Linked DNA regions of Homo sapiens. The protein of the gene in region 2 interacts with the protein of the main gene of each other region in a biochemical or structural test. Each region holds a gene or a part of one and is shown on either strand. Other genes may lie near its edges.

What was found. The genes of interacting proteins can lie anywhere in the genome.
Region 1: the proteins of RLIM (region 2) and CFLAR form a complex in vitro, tested with the Homo sapiens proteins (one study listed by BioGRID).

Annotation. Positions count from the first base shown.
Region 1 is NC_000002.12:201,168,141-201,175,178, reverse strand, and holds part of CFLAR (CASP8 and FADD-like apoptosis regulator), read right to left. Parts: 3' UTR 1-7,038. UniProt on the Homo sapiens protein: Apoptosis regulator protein which may function as a crucial link between cell survival and cell death pathways in mammalian cells. Acts as an inhibitor of TNFRSF6 mediated apoptosis.
Region 2 is NC_000023.11:74,583,587-74,590,624, forward strand, and holds part of RLIM (E3 ubiquitin-protein ligase RLIM), read right to left. Parts: 3' UTR 1-7,038. UniProt on the Homo sapiens protein: E3 ubiquitin-protein ligase.

The DNA of each region.
Region 1 (7,038 bases), on a different chromosome or scaffold from region 2:
GGAAGAGTAGCCCTGATGGGCTGCTGACTGGCTATATTTATGGTTGCTTCTTGACTATACGCTAAACAAGAGGTGGCTTATTCATGAGTTTTCCAGGAAAGAAGTGGGGAGGTCTGGACCTTTTAGACCATACAGGGTAACTTCTGAAAGTTGCTATGGCAGTTGTAAACTATCATGGTGCTGTAGAAGTTTCTTTTAGCGTGCTAATGTATTATAATTACCATAGAATGGGCAGCAAAGGTAACCAGAGGTCTCTTCTGTCACCATCATGGTTTTGGCTGGTTTGGGTTGGCCTTTCTACCACATCCTGTCTTATCAGCAGGGTCTTACAGGGTCTTGTGGTCTTGGGAAACCAGTCCTGCCAAACTCCTCTCATTCAGTGTAATCACTATCAAAATTCCAGAGGCCCTTTTTACATAAATTTGCAAGTGAATCCTAACAGTTATATGAAAATTTAGGGAAAGGTAAACCCAATACAGCCCTAACAATTTTGAAAAAGAACAGGCCAGTTGCAGTGGCTCACCCCTCAGCACTTTGGGAGGTGGAGGTGGGAGGATTGTTTGAGGCCAGGAGTTTGAGACCAGCCTGGGCAACATAGCAAGGCCTCATCTCTACAAAAGAAAAAAGAAGAACAACAACAACAACAAAGTTAGAGGACTACATTTCTGGATTCCAAAACTTACTACGAAGTTACAATAATCAAGACAGTGTGGTACTACCATAAGATAGAGCAACAGAATTGAGTCCAGAAATAAACCCTTATAGTTAGTTGATTTGTGATAAGTATAAAATAATTCTATAGGGAAAAAATAGTATTTTCAATAAGTAATGCTAAGACAAGTGAACATTTATGTGCAAAAGAATGAGGCTGGATGCTTATCTCGCACTGCATACACAAAAATAACTCAAAATGGGTCAAAGAGCTAAAATCATAAAACTTTAGAAGAAAACATAGGGGTAACACCTCATAGGCAATTGATTTAGACAATGGTTTTTTAGGTATGACACCAAAAGCATAAGCAATAACATAAAAAACAGAAATCAAGTGAACTTCATCAAAATTTAAAACTTGTACTGTATAGTATCCAGAAAGTGAGAAGACAATCCATGGAATGGGAGAATATATTCACAAAGATTGTACCTGATAAGAAACTAGTATCCAGAATATTAAAAAGAATGCTTACAACTCAACAATAAAAAGACAACCCACCGGGTGTGGTGGCTCACGCCTGTAATCCTAGCATTTTGGGAGGCCGAGGCAGGCAGATCACCTGAGTTCAGGAGTTCAAGACCAGCCTGGCCAACATGGCGAAACCCTGTCTCTACTAAAAATACAAAAATTAGCCAGGCGTGATGGTGGGTGCCTGTAATCCCAGTTACTAGGGAGGCCGAGGCAGGAGAGTCGCTTGAACTCAGGAGGTGGAGGTTGCAGTGAGCCGAGATTGCACCACTGCACTCCAACCTGGGCGACAGAGTGAGATTCCATCTCAGAAAAATAAAATAAAATAACGCAGTTTTAAAATGAGAAAGGACTTGAGGCCAGGCACAGTAGCTAATGTCTGTAATGCCAGCACTTTGGGAAGCCAAGGCAGTCAGATCACCTGAGGCCAGGAGTTCGAGACCAGCCTGGCCAACATGGTGAAACCCTGTCTTTACTAAAAATACAAAAATTGGCTGGGCGCGGTGGCTCACGCCTGTAATCCCAGCACTTTGGGAGGCCAAGGCAGGCGGATCACGAGGTCAGGAGATAGAGACCATCCTGGCTAACACGGTGAAACCCTGTCTCTACTAAAAATACAAAAAATTAGCCGGGCGTGGTGGAGGGCGGCTGTAGTCCCAGATACTTGGGAGGCTGAGGCAGGAGAATGGCATGAACCCAGGAGGCGGAGCTTGCAGTGAGCTGAGATTGCACCACTGCACTCCAGCCTGGGCCACAGAGCGAGACTCCGTCTCAAAAAACAATACAAAAATTAGTTGGGCATGGTGGCGAGCTCCTGTAAACCCAGCTACTCCCAACTACTAGGGAGGCTGAGGCAGGAGAATGGCTTGAACCCAGAAGGCAGAGGTTACAGTGAATCAAGATAACGCCACTGCACTCCACCCTGGGCGACAGAGTGAGACTCCGTCTCAAAAACAAAAAAATAAAAAAAACCTCATACACTGCTGGTGGGAATATAAAATGATGCTACTACTTTGAAAAGCAGTTTGGCAGTTCCTCAAAAGGCTAAACATAGAGTTACTATATGATGAGCACTCTCACTTCTAAGGTATATGCCCAGAAGAACTGAAAACATATATCCATATAAAAATTCATATACGAATATTCATAGCAGCATCATCCATAATAGCAAAAAAGTGGAAACAGTCTAAATTTCGATCAACTGATGAATAAACTAAATGCGGTATATCCACACAATAGGGTATTATTCAGCCATAAAATGTAATGAAGCACTGGTACACTCTATAGCATAGATGAACCTTGAAACATGCTAAGTGAAGGAAGTCAGACACGAAAGGCCACATGTTTATTTTTATAAAATATCTAGAACAGGCAAATCATAGAGACAGAAAATGGATTATTGTTTCTAGAGGCTGGGGGAAGAGGAGGATTAGAGTGGCAGCTCACTGGTATGGAGTTTCTAGGTAGATGGAAATGTTCTGGAATTAGATAGTGGTGATGATTGCACAACTCTGTAAATATACTAAAATCCACTGCATCATTTACTTTAAAGGGGCAAATTTTATGGCTTGTGAATTACATTTCAATAAAAAGAAGATGAGGAAACCTAGGATATGTCACAATCCCATGCCACAAACTACTTACACTTCCAATATAAAAACTATATCAACAATAGTTTACATCACGTTCATTGCTTGCTAAAGTAAGGTCATGAATGTATCAAAATATTTTATAAAAGTTAAAATTTAGGAGATCCATCATTTCTCTTTTCAATCCATCACTGATTCATTCAATATATATTTATGTGTATGCCAGGCTCTTCATCAGGTAAAGTGTTTAGGAGAGATATAAAGATAAAACTGATGAGAATTCTGCACTTGAGCTACAGCATACTTTCCAAGAATTACAGCATGAGATATAAAATGAAAAGAAGGCTTGGAGGAGATTCACACGAAATAGTACTGTTCAGGAGAGGGGGCGATAATTCCAATGGAAGAGATAACTGACTTCATGGAGGATAGAAGGAGATGGTATTTGAACTGCCCTTGAAGTATGGTTATATTTTGGGGATGTGGAGATGTGGGGTAGGGTGATATGCTGGGGTTCCAGATGGTCCAGAAATATACAATCACCAGAACCAAAGATCCAGAGGTAGGAGATATGAGCTGTTCAATTTGGCTGAGCTAACAGTGTTTGGAGTGGGATCTTGAAGAAGCTGAAAATGAAGATACCAACTAGACAGTCAGAGAAAGACTTCCAATGTTTGACTGAACTGCAATTTTATTGTGTATGCATTGAAGAATCTTTTTTTTTTTTTTTGTATTCTCTAAAGATTTTTAAAATATTTTAAGTTCTGGATACAAGTGCAGGATGTGCGGGTTTGTTACATAGGTAAACGTGTCCCATGGTGGTTTGCTGCACCTATCAACCTATCACCTAGGTATTAAGCCCCACATGCATTAGCTAGTTATCCTGATGCTCTCCCCGCTACGGCCCCTGCATCAGGCCCCAGTGTGTGTTGATCTCATCCCTGTGTCCGTGTGTTCTCATTGTTCAGCTTCCGCTTACAAGTGAGAACATGTGGTGTTTGGTTTCCTGCTCCTCTGTTAGTTTGCTGAGGATAATGGCTTCCAGCTTCATCCATGTCCCTGCAAAGGACATGATCTCATTCCTTTTTTAAAAAAAAAAACAAAATTATTTCCATAGGTGTTTGGGGAACAGGTGGTATCTGGTTACATGCGTAAGTAATTAAGTGGTTACTTGTGAGATTCTGGTGCACCCATCACCTGAGCAGTATACACTGAACCCAATTTGTATTCTTTTATCCTTCACCCCCCTCCCACCCTTTCCCCTAAGTCCCCAAAGTCCATTGTATCCTTCTTATGCCTTTGCATCCTCATAGCTTATCTCCCACTTATGAGTGAGAACATACAATGTTTGGTTTTCCATTCCTCAGTTACTTCCTTTAGAGTAATAGTCTCCAGGTTGCTGTGAATGTCATTAATTCATTCCTTTTTATGGCTGAGTAGTGTTTAGGTGAGGTTATTTGTAAGTAATTAATATTGAGTAAATAAGATTCATCCATAGTGGCAAAGCCACATAACTTCTAAGTATCTTAAACTATATCTAAATGGTACCAAAACATGCAGTCAATTCTAAAAGCTCAGCTAATGATATTTCATAATATAGGAAAATATTCACAACATATTTTTGTGTAAAAAAAAGCAGACTTCAAAATGGAATATGCATTATGATTCCAATCATGTAAAAGCTATACATGAACACATACAAAGATTAACAGATATAAACAAATGGAAGAATGAATGGAGAGATAGATGATAGACAGATTGAGTGGTGGTGGAGAATAACAGATTTAAAAAGAAATTGTGCCTTTCTATATTTTCAAAACCATTTAAATAAGTATTACCTTTGGAGTTAGAAAATGATATGTATTTTAAATCCATAATTCAACTACTTATCTATATGATGTCAAACTGGATTAGGCTGAATTATCAGCAAGTGAATAAAACAGTTCCTTCATCCATGGAGAAACATCCATTTATGACATTCTTGGAATTCCTCTTGTTAGAATTCTTTATGAATTTAAAATAGAAACATGGCCAGACTCAAGATTTCAATACAAACATTACTTTTTCACGTTCAGTAATAACCAATTAAAAGAATTAATGAAAAATCTGATTCACTGTATCACCAAAAGCTGTAATGGCTGCACTGCACAGTATTCCATGGTGTATATGTACCACATTTTCTTTATCCAGTCTATCTTTGATGGGCATTTGCTATTGTGTCTTTGCTATTGTGAAGAGTGCTGCAATGAACAAAAATGTGCATGTATCTTTATAATAAAATGGTTTATATTCCTTTGGGTATATACCCAGTAATGGGATTGCTGGGACAAATAGTATTTCTAGTTCTAGATCTTTGAGGAATAGCCACACACACTTCCACAACGGTTGAACTAATTTACATTCCCACCAACAATGTAAAAGTGTTCCTACTTCTCCACAGCCTCGCCAGCATCTGTTGTTTTTTGACTTTTTAATAATCACCATTCTGACCGGCATGAGATGGTATCTCATTGTGGTTCTCCTTTGCATTTCTCTAATGATCAGTAAGGTTGAGCTTTTTTTTATATGTTTGTTGGCCACATAAATGTCTTCTTTTGAGAAGTGTCTGTTCATGTCCTTTGTCCACTTTTTGATGGGGTTGTTTTTTTCCTTGTAAATTTGTTTTAAGTTCCTTGTAGGTTCTGGATATTAGACCTTTGTCAGATGGATAGATTGCAAAAATGTTCTCCCATTCTGTAGGTTGCCTGTTCACTCTAATGATAGTTTCTTTTGCTGTGCAGGAGCTCTTTAGTTTAATTAGATCCCATTTGTAATTTTTGCTTTTGTTGCAATTGCTTTTGATGTTTTTGTCATGAAACCTTTGCTTGTGCCTATGTCTTGAATGGTATTAAATAGATTTTCTTCTAGGGTTTTTATAGTTTTAGGTTTTACATTAAGTCTTTAATCTTGAGTTAATTTTTGTATAAGGTGTAAGGAAGGGGTCAGTTTCAATTTTCTGCATATGGCTAGCCAGTTTTCCCAGCACCATTTATTAAATAGGGAATCTTTTCCCCATTGCTTGTTTTTGTCAGGTTTGTCGATGATCAGATGGCTGTAGATGTGTGGTCTTCTTTCTCTGGTCTCTATTCTGTTCCATTGGTCTATGTGTCTGTTTTTGTACCAGTACCATGCCATTTTGGCTACTGTAGCCTTGCAGTATACTTTGAAGTTGGGTAGTGTGATGCTTCCAGCTTTGTTCTTTTTGCTTATTGTTGTCTTGGTTATACGGGCTCTTTTTTGGTTCCATTTGAATTTTAAAGTAGTTTTTTTCTAATTCTGTGAAGAATGTCAATAGTAGTTTAATGGGAATAGCAATGAACCTATAAATTACTTTGGGTAGTATGGCCATTTTCATGATATTGATTCTTCCTATCCACGAGAATGGAATGTTTTTTCATTTGTGTCCTCTCTTATTTCCTTGAGCAGTGGTTTGTAGTTCTCCTTGAAGAGATCCTTCACATCTTATTAGCTGTATTCCTAGGTATTTTATTCTCTTTCTAGCAACTGTGAATGGGAGTTCATTCATGATTTGGCTCTCTGCTTGTGTATTGTTGGTGTATAGAATGCTTGTGATTTCTGCACATTGATTTTGTATCCTGAGACTTTGCTGAAGTTGCTTATCAGCTTAAGGAACTTTTGGGTGGAGATAATGGGGTTTTCTAGATATAGTATCATGTCATCTGCAAACACAGTTTTACTTCCTCTTTTCCTATTTGAATACCCCTTATTTGTTTCTCTTGCCTGATTTTCTTGGCCAGAACTTCCAATACTATGTTAAATAGGAGTGGTGAGACGGCATCCCTGTCTTGTGCCAGTTTTCAAGGGGAATGCTTCCAGCTTTTGCCCATTCAGTATGATAATGGCTGTGGGTTTGTCATAAATGGTTATTATTTTGAGATATTTTCCATCAATACCTAGTTTATTGAGAGTTTTTAACATGAAGCAACGTTGAATTTTATTGAAGGCCTTTTCTGTATCTATTGAGATAATCATGTGGTTTTTGTCTTTAGTTCTGTTTATGTGATGAATTATGTTTCTTGATTTGCGTATGTTGAACCAGCCTTGCATCCCAGGGATGAAGCCAACATTCCAAACATTTTATTTATTATTTATTTATTTATTTATTTTTGAGACAGAGTCTCGCACTGTCGCCCAGGCTGGAGTGCAGTGGCAAGATCTCAGCTCGCTGCAAGCTCCACCTCCCAGGTTCATGCCGTTCTCTTGCCTCGG
Region 2 (7,038 bases):
ATAAAACACCTTGATACCGTTTGCCCTAGGGCTGATTACAAGGTACACTTAAACTGCTAAAATGATAGTTCATGTTATTCATAGTGCTAAGGTGTATCTGGTAATGCCCAGTGCTTTACTGAATTTACAGTATATTACCATTAATCCTCCAAAAAACAAAAAAACAAAAAACAATTTGCGGCCGGGCGTGGTGGCTCACGCCTGTAATACCACCACTGTGGGAGGCCGAGACGGGCAGATCATGGGATCAGGGGTTCAAGACCAGCCTGGCCAACATGGTGAAACCCTGTCTCTACTAAAAATAGAAAAATTAGCTGGGCGTGGTGGCGGGCGCCTGTAATCCCAGCTACTCGGGAGGCTGAGGCAGGAGAATCGTTTGAACCCAGAGGCAGAGGTTGCAGTGAGCCAAGATCGCACCATTGCACTCCAGCCTGGGCGACAGGGCGAGAATCCATCTCAAACAAACAAAAAAATAAACAAAAACCAATTTGGCCTTTTTTTTTCTTGGCAAACCAGCCAAAACTGATGTTTTTCCTAAGAAATCACACCTCATAAGCAATCTAGTCTAGGGCTTGGGATAAATACTAAGAAACAAATTAGAAGTCATATAGTAGTGGGATTAAGAGCACAAGGAAGATGACTGCATCAAAGATGATTGCAAATAATCTGCTACTTACTATGTGACCTGGGCAAATTACCAAACATCTGTATCTCAGCTGCATTACCTATAAAATGGGTGGTATACTTTCACCTCACAGTCACTGTGATGATTAAATAATTTATATAGAATACTTAATACAATGCCTGACAGCAACCAGAAAAGTTTAGCTAATTTAATTATAGTTAGTAATCCATGCAAGGCCTTATAGTTAAATCTTGTCTAAATTCAAAGACCTCAAAGAAACTGGACCCTTGCTTTCTTATTTTTTAAAATGACCATTAAGAGTTCAGTTTATAATCCACCCAGATTTATCGAATCCTTTCTTCTAGGTATCTGGGGGTTTTTTTGAGACAAGGTTTTGCTCTGTAACCCAGGCTGGAGTGCATCAGCATGATCATGGCTCACTGCAGCCTTGACCTCCCGGGCTCAAGTGATTCTACCACCTCAGCCTCCCAAGTAGCTGGGACCACAGCTGTGTACCACCACACCTGGCTAATTTATGTCTGGATCCTTTTCACTGACCTAAGATGCCTGTGCTTTGGCTTCATTGTCTAGAGCACTAACTTTTTGATGGTGGTATTGAGTTTCAAATAATAAAATCATGAATGACACTAAACTTAAAACCTTGGGAAGGTCATGAGTTGAAGAGCTGACTACATCAAAACTATCCTGAGAAACCGAGTTATGATGCCAATGACAGATAGCTCTGCAGGCACCAGAGGAAATGAAACTATAATACAATACACCAGGTGTCACAATGTGACGATTTACTTGAAACAAGGACATCTTAGTGGCTTAAGCAATATGTTTAAGAGATTAAGATAGAAATGGAAGACAGAAGTACAAGCACACGTGCACACCTACAAGTTTTTGTATATATACAGGGCAAGCAAGGGAGTGGTCAGAGCAATGGCGAGAATACAAGAAACAGCAAAGATGCGCCTACTTAAAATGTCATTCACATAAATCTTTCCAGGATTCTTGTATTGGAATATAATCTTTTATTTTACCACTCAACGATTAAGCCATTCAACTACACAACACAGATAAAACGGAAGTTATAACATATAAACCAGTACCTGCCCACACTCATAGCAGTGAGGGGAATAAAAATCAAGGTTGCACTGTAATTCCATGACTCTAAAAATCAAGTCTATTTGACATTGGTTTGAAGCAACAGAACCTTTATAGCAGATTCCCCTTTTTAAAGAAAAACCCAAGGAGAGATGATCAAGCACAAATGATCACTTCATGCATTTTATTGATAGTCTATATTTTAAATCTGCAGTATGACATCTTACATAGGGAAAAAAGCTTCTTCCTAAAAGATAACTATTAATAATCAAACCAGCTTTAATATGATTGACCTTTCAAGGTCTTGTTTTGCTTTAAACAAGTTAACTTTTAGCAGTTGTAAAGCACTGTACAAAAGAAAACTGTGTACATTCTCAAAATTTAATACAGGGCTTCCCAACCAGGAGTCTGCTGGATAGGTATCGGAGAAGGGTGTTATGTTCAGGTTTAAATTGAAAGAAAATGAGAAACCAGATAAAGCAAGCCAACCAAATTAACTTCACTTTGTGCTCCTCTCTGCTTTTTTGAGTCTCTCCCGAAGGTCAGGAAGCCCTGGTATAACAATCACTTTAGTCTTTACAGAACATACATCTATGTGCTTTGTGACCAAAGACATAAAGGCAGCCTTTGTTACTGTTCCCCCTCCAAACCCCTTCAGGTTCTTATAAGCTTCAGAAAGCTTTCCAAGATTGCTGCCCTGTTCTTTGTATGAATCCAAGTAAACAACTATACCAAAGCAGCTCTTCCTGGGAGAAGATAAAACAGGCACAGATACATCACCAGGCCAACTGCGTACCTACTCAACTTGATACCTGATCACATGGCCCTACATCCTTAAAAGCAGCACCAGGGACAAATGGAGCTATCAAGAGGTAAAATCCAAACACTGGACAGTTAAAACACATACAAACCAGTTAAAAGAACATTAGTAATGGGGCACTAAATAGAGTTAAGGCTGGACAGCTGGTTCAACCATACCTTGGTATTGAAATAATTCTGCAAGATGAGGAACTTACAGAGGAACCTTGAAAGAGGCACCATGATATGACAGGGTTCACTTTCACTGCATGTCTTTAAGATATCTACTACTCAGCCCAACTGACCATAAAGCAGCTCGTGGAACTTTAATAAACAAATCCTAATAAAAATAAATAATTTTTAGAATGTTGGAGGGTATGCCTATTTCCTTCAGATCTGATCAAGACATGAGAATTATAAAACCGATACAAACTGTTCTGTGATTATCACTTGACAGTTCTAACACTGTTATACAGCTCAATTCTATGCTGCAGCCTTTAAGATACAAACTGGGGTTACATGAGATCACTCACTTGTTAGAGAAGTATCAGATAAATTTTAGAACTGTTCCAGTTAAGGAAAATAATTCTTAATTTCATAATCCTAAAACTTTTTCTAAAAATTTTTGCAGGGCAGGTACTTAACTCATAGCTGTTTTAGTTGATTAAAAAATCTGATTTAAAAATAAGTAAGGCTGGGCGCAGTGGCTCACGCCTATAATCCCAGCACTTTGGGAGAATGAGGCAGGCAAATTGCCTGAGCCCAGGAGTTCAAGAACAGCCTGGACAACATGGCGAAACCCCATCTCCACAAAAAATTAGCCAGGCAATGTGGTGCATGCCTGTAGTCCCAGCTACTTGGAAGGCTGAGGTGGGAGAATCACCTGAGCCCAGGAAGTCAAGGCTGCAGTGAGCTGTGACCATGCCACTGCACTCCAGCCTGGGTGACAGAGCAAGACCCTGTCTCAAAAAGTAAAAAATAAAATAAAATAAAAATAAATAAGTGACATACTAGTTCCTCGGATCTTTTACTTTTTTCCAAATGAAGTATGCTGTCAATTTACATTTTTCATGTTTTTTCAAAAGCACACAATTTACTAGTTAACTCAATGAATTACAATACTGTTATTGAATATAAACATACTGAAGAATTAAAGGGAAAAAAACACACCTGACACTTTAACATGTGCCTTAACAATCTTGCATACTAAGGTACAGAATACTTCAGAAAGTAACAATTAGCATAGTCTTATAAGACTAGGAGAATAAAAGTGCCCTGCAAACATGGCTTCTATGTACTTAATATGGTAAAACATGTGACAGGGAAGCCTGTAAGGTAAAACTTAAAAAAAAAATCAAATAAGGCAGATTATAATTTTTTTTGTTCGCAAAAGAACAAAGGAGAAAAGGGGAAGAATAAAAACATTCTCCATCTTTAAAAGAAAAAATATTAACAACCATAAGGTGCCACTGTATTTTAGCAAGCTGTAAAAATGGCCTTTTAAGAGGAATTTTGCAATCTTTACCTCCCTATCATTTGGGTATTTTGGGAACTGACCGAAAGTCATGGCTGATGCTTCACCCATTTCATGTCATGGACGCCTGGGAAGCAGGTAGTTAAATACAAAGCATATTATGTGATAACCCTTCATAAATATAATTTGAGACACTGACACTAGGAGAGGATACTTGGCACAGAAAAGACATGTTATGGGGCGGGGGACACATTACTTGAGGCAACACTTACAGCCAATCAGTTTCCTAATCTTAAGGTTTGGATGAATTCCAATCGTTTTTAAAAACTGTGTGTGTACACACACATATTTTATTTCCTGGTGCTAAAGGTCTTATAAACTGTACAATTACCTACATTCCAACACTAATGTGAACACTTTTCTCAATCCCCACCTCCATTAACACCATTAAGGTGTAACTAACATGTTCTTTTCAGAGCAAATATTCCAAATTAACAAGGTGGCTCATCTTCTATAGTGTTGATACAAAGTCAGCAAACTTTTAACTTAACTTGCTCAATTTTGTTTCTAATAGTACTAATAAACCTCAACTTTGGCTGGACATGGTGGCTCACGCCTGTAATCCCAGCATTTTCGGAGGCCGAGGCAGGCACATCACTTGAGGTCAGGAGTTCAAGACCAGCCTGGCCAACACGGTGAAGTCCCCATCTCTACTAAAAATATAAAAACTAGCCAGGTGTGGTGGCATGCGCCTGTAATCCCAGCTACTCGAGAGGCTGAGACAGGAGAATTGCTTGAACCCAGGAGGCAGAGGTTGCAGTGAGCCGAGATCGCTCCATTGCACTTCATCCTGGGCAACCAAGTAAGACTCTGTCTCAAAAAAACAAAACAAAACAAAACAAAACAAAAAAACCTCAACTTTGTCAGCTGCTCAGAGTTAAAACAATTCAAATGTTTCAGACTAGAAGTGAGTTTTTAAAAACATCTGAAATATTCAAGAAAATTTGGGTTTTGGTACTTTTCCTTATGCTCTGAACAATGTGAACTCCCAACATTGTTTATCCTTGTTCCTCTTACTGCATGAAGTTCAAACTAGGTCTTAAAGACAACTTTTCTGTACTTAAGAAAAAGTGCAAAGATAGAAAATGAAATGTAAGGTGTTTTGCAAGAAATGCTCCCTCGAGAATGGTGTTTGGATGTGGGTGGGGGGAAAACGATTTTTGTTCTCCATTGTAATCTGACACCTACGAATGACCTTGTCTTCAATGTCCACAACACTAGTAAGCATGTAATAATCACGGACATCGCAAGATTAAAAATTAAGTAGCAAATTCCACTAAAACACTTGTATTCATTCTATACAATCGAATGGAAATCCGTGAGTGCTACTGAAAAAGGTGTTCACATGCACATGTCCAATATGTGCATTCCACTGAAGGCTAAAAGCTTAAAATTCTATTTCCAGTGTTTATGAATAGCTTCAATATCTACATTCATAGCCAGCATTCTGCTTGAGTTACCTCTTACTTTAATACTTCACAAATGAGTAAGTACGTCTTGGGAGATTAGGAAGGTACCTGTTGTCAATAACTTTCTCTTATGCTTAGAATGTGCTGCAATTGTTTTTAAACTATTTAAAATGAACACCCCTATAATAATGAAACACTTTATGCCAAGAAGAAAATTGATTTGTTTTTAGCCAATCAAGACTACCCTGCAGATCTGAAAACTGTAGATTACATCCTTAGGAAAGGAGAAAAGGAGGCTCACAAATATAAAGGAATCCTGACTTTTACACGGACAAATTTTTAAAAAGATAAAATGTATTACATAAGCGCCATAAACAGTGAAATCTGCTTATATTAAAAAAAATAAGTGAAGCTTTGTTTGGACATTATTTCCTTGCAAGAGCAGTACATATCCTTAGTAAACAACTACCATATTTACAAGTTAATTTCCTTGATACTTAGATAGGATTGAAAGCCAGAAGAAATCATGGAAGAGTGAGCTTTGAAATAATCTTTACAGCTAAGTTGGTAACAGTGAAGGTACCCAGACAATTCCTAAAGCAGACTTGTTTATTTTGTAGAGTATTTGACTACGTCTGGGTAGCTAGCTTGCTTTGATAAAGGCCAAGGACAAGTTCAATCCCTATTTTGGCCTGTTAAAGCTTTTCCCAGAAGAACAAATATCTGCTCCATAGTCATTCTAATCCTAACCCCAGCTAGTCTCAAAAAAGAAATTAGGCAAGAAGACTGGGGTTATCATGAAGTTACTCTTACTACTAAGAAACCAACATAAAGTGCATGTCCATAGATAGCGAGTCAGCAGTCTCATTTTCATATATGGGCAGCACAATTAAAATTTGAATTTCAAATAACCCAACATGACTTTCAACAAAGGATAAAAATCCCTTAATCTTCAACTGGTCTTTAAATTTGAGATGTTAGGACTGTGTTAGAGATAGTAATGAAATATGATCAAGTGTGCACTGGTACCTTAAATGACAAATCTCAAAAACAACACAAATTCGAGACTTTCCTATTAACACACACATGTGTACCAACTGCAATTCATATGCTAAAAGTGGTTTTATAGTCTCTTTCCTCCATTTTTTCATTTTTGAGGAGCAGACTTGTAAATTTAACTTGTGCTAGGTAGTAGTGGTTTGTTTTTCTTAAACCAAAACTCTGCCAAACTTGCTGATCTTCTGCTTCATCTACTCAGGTAGAATACCAGGTCAAGCTGCTGCTGTGGCTGCTCTCACCATATGAAACCAGTTTGTGTCTGCATTATTACTGTCTTCAGGAAAACTTTAAATTCTTCAGTTTTCTTTACTCCTCCCATATTTCACTTCCTGCCTAAATCCAAGTTAAATTATACAATTTCCACTGGTCTTCAACACGGTTTAATTCTGCACTGTCCTTTCCTTTGCATGTCACAGTAGCTGTTCACACATTAAATATTATAGATATGTTCTGCTCTTGACATCTACACACTTACAAAAGCAGCTTTGTACTTTGTTTGGTGT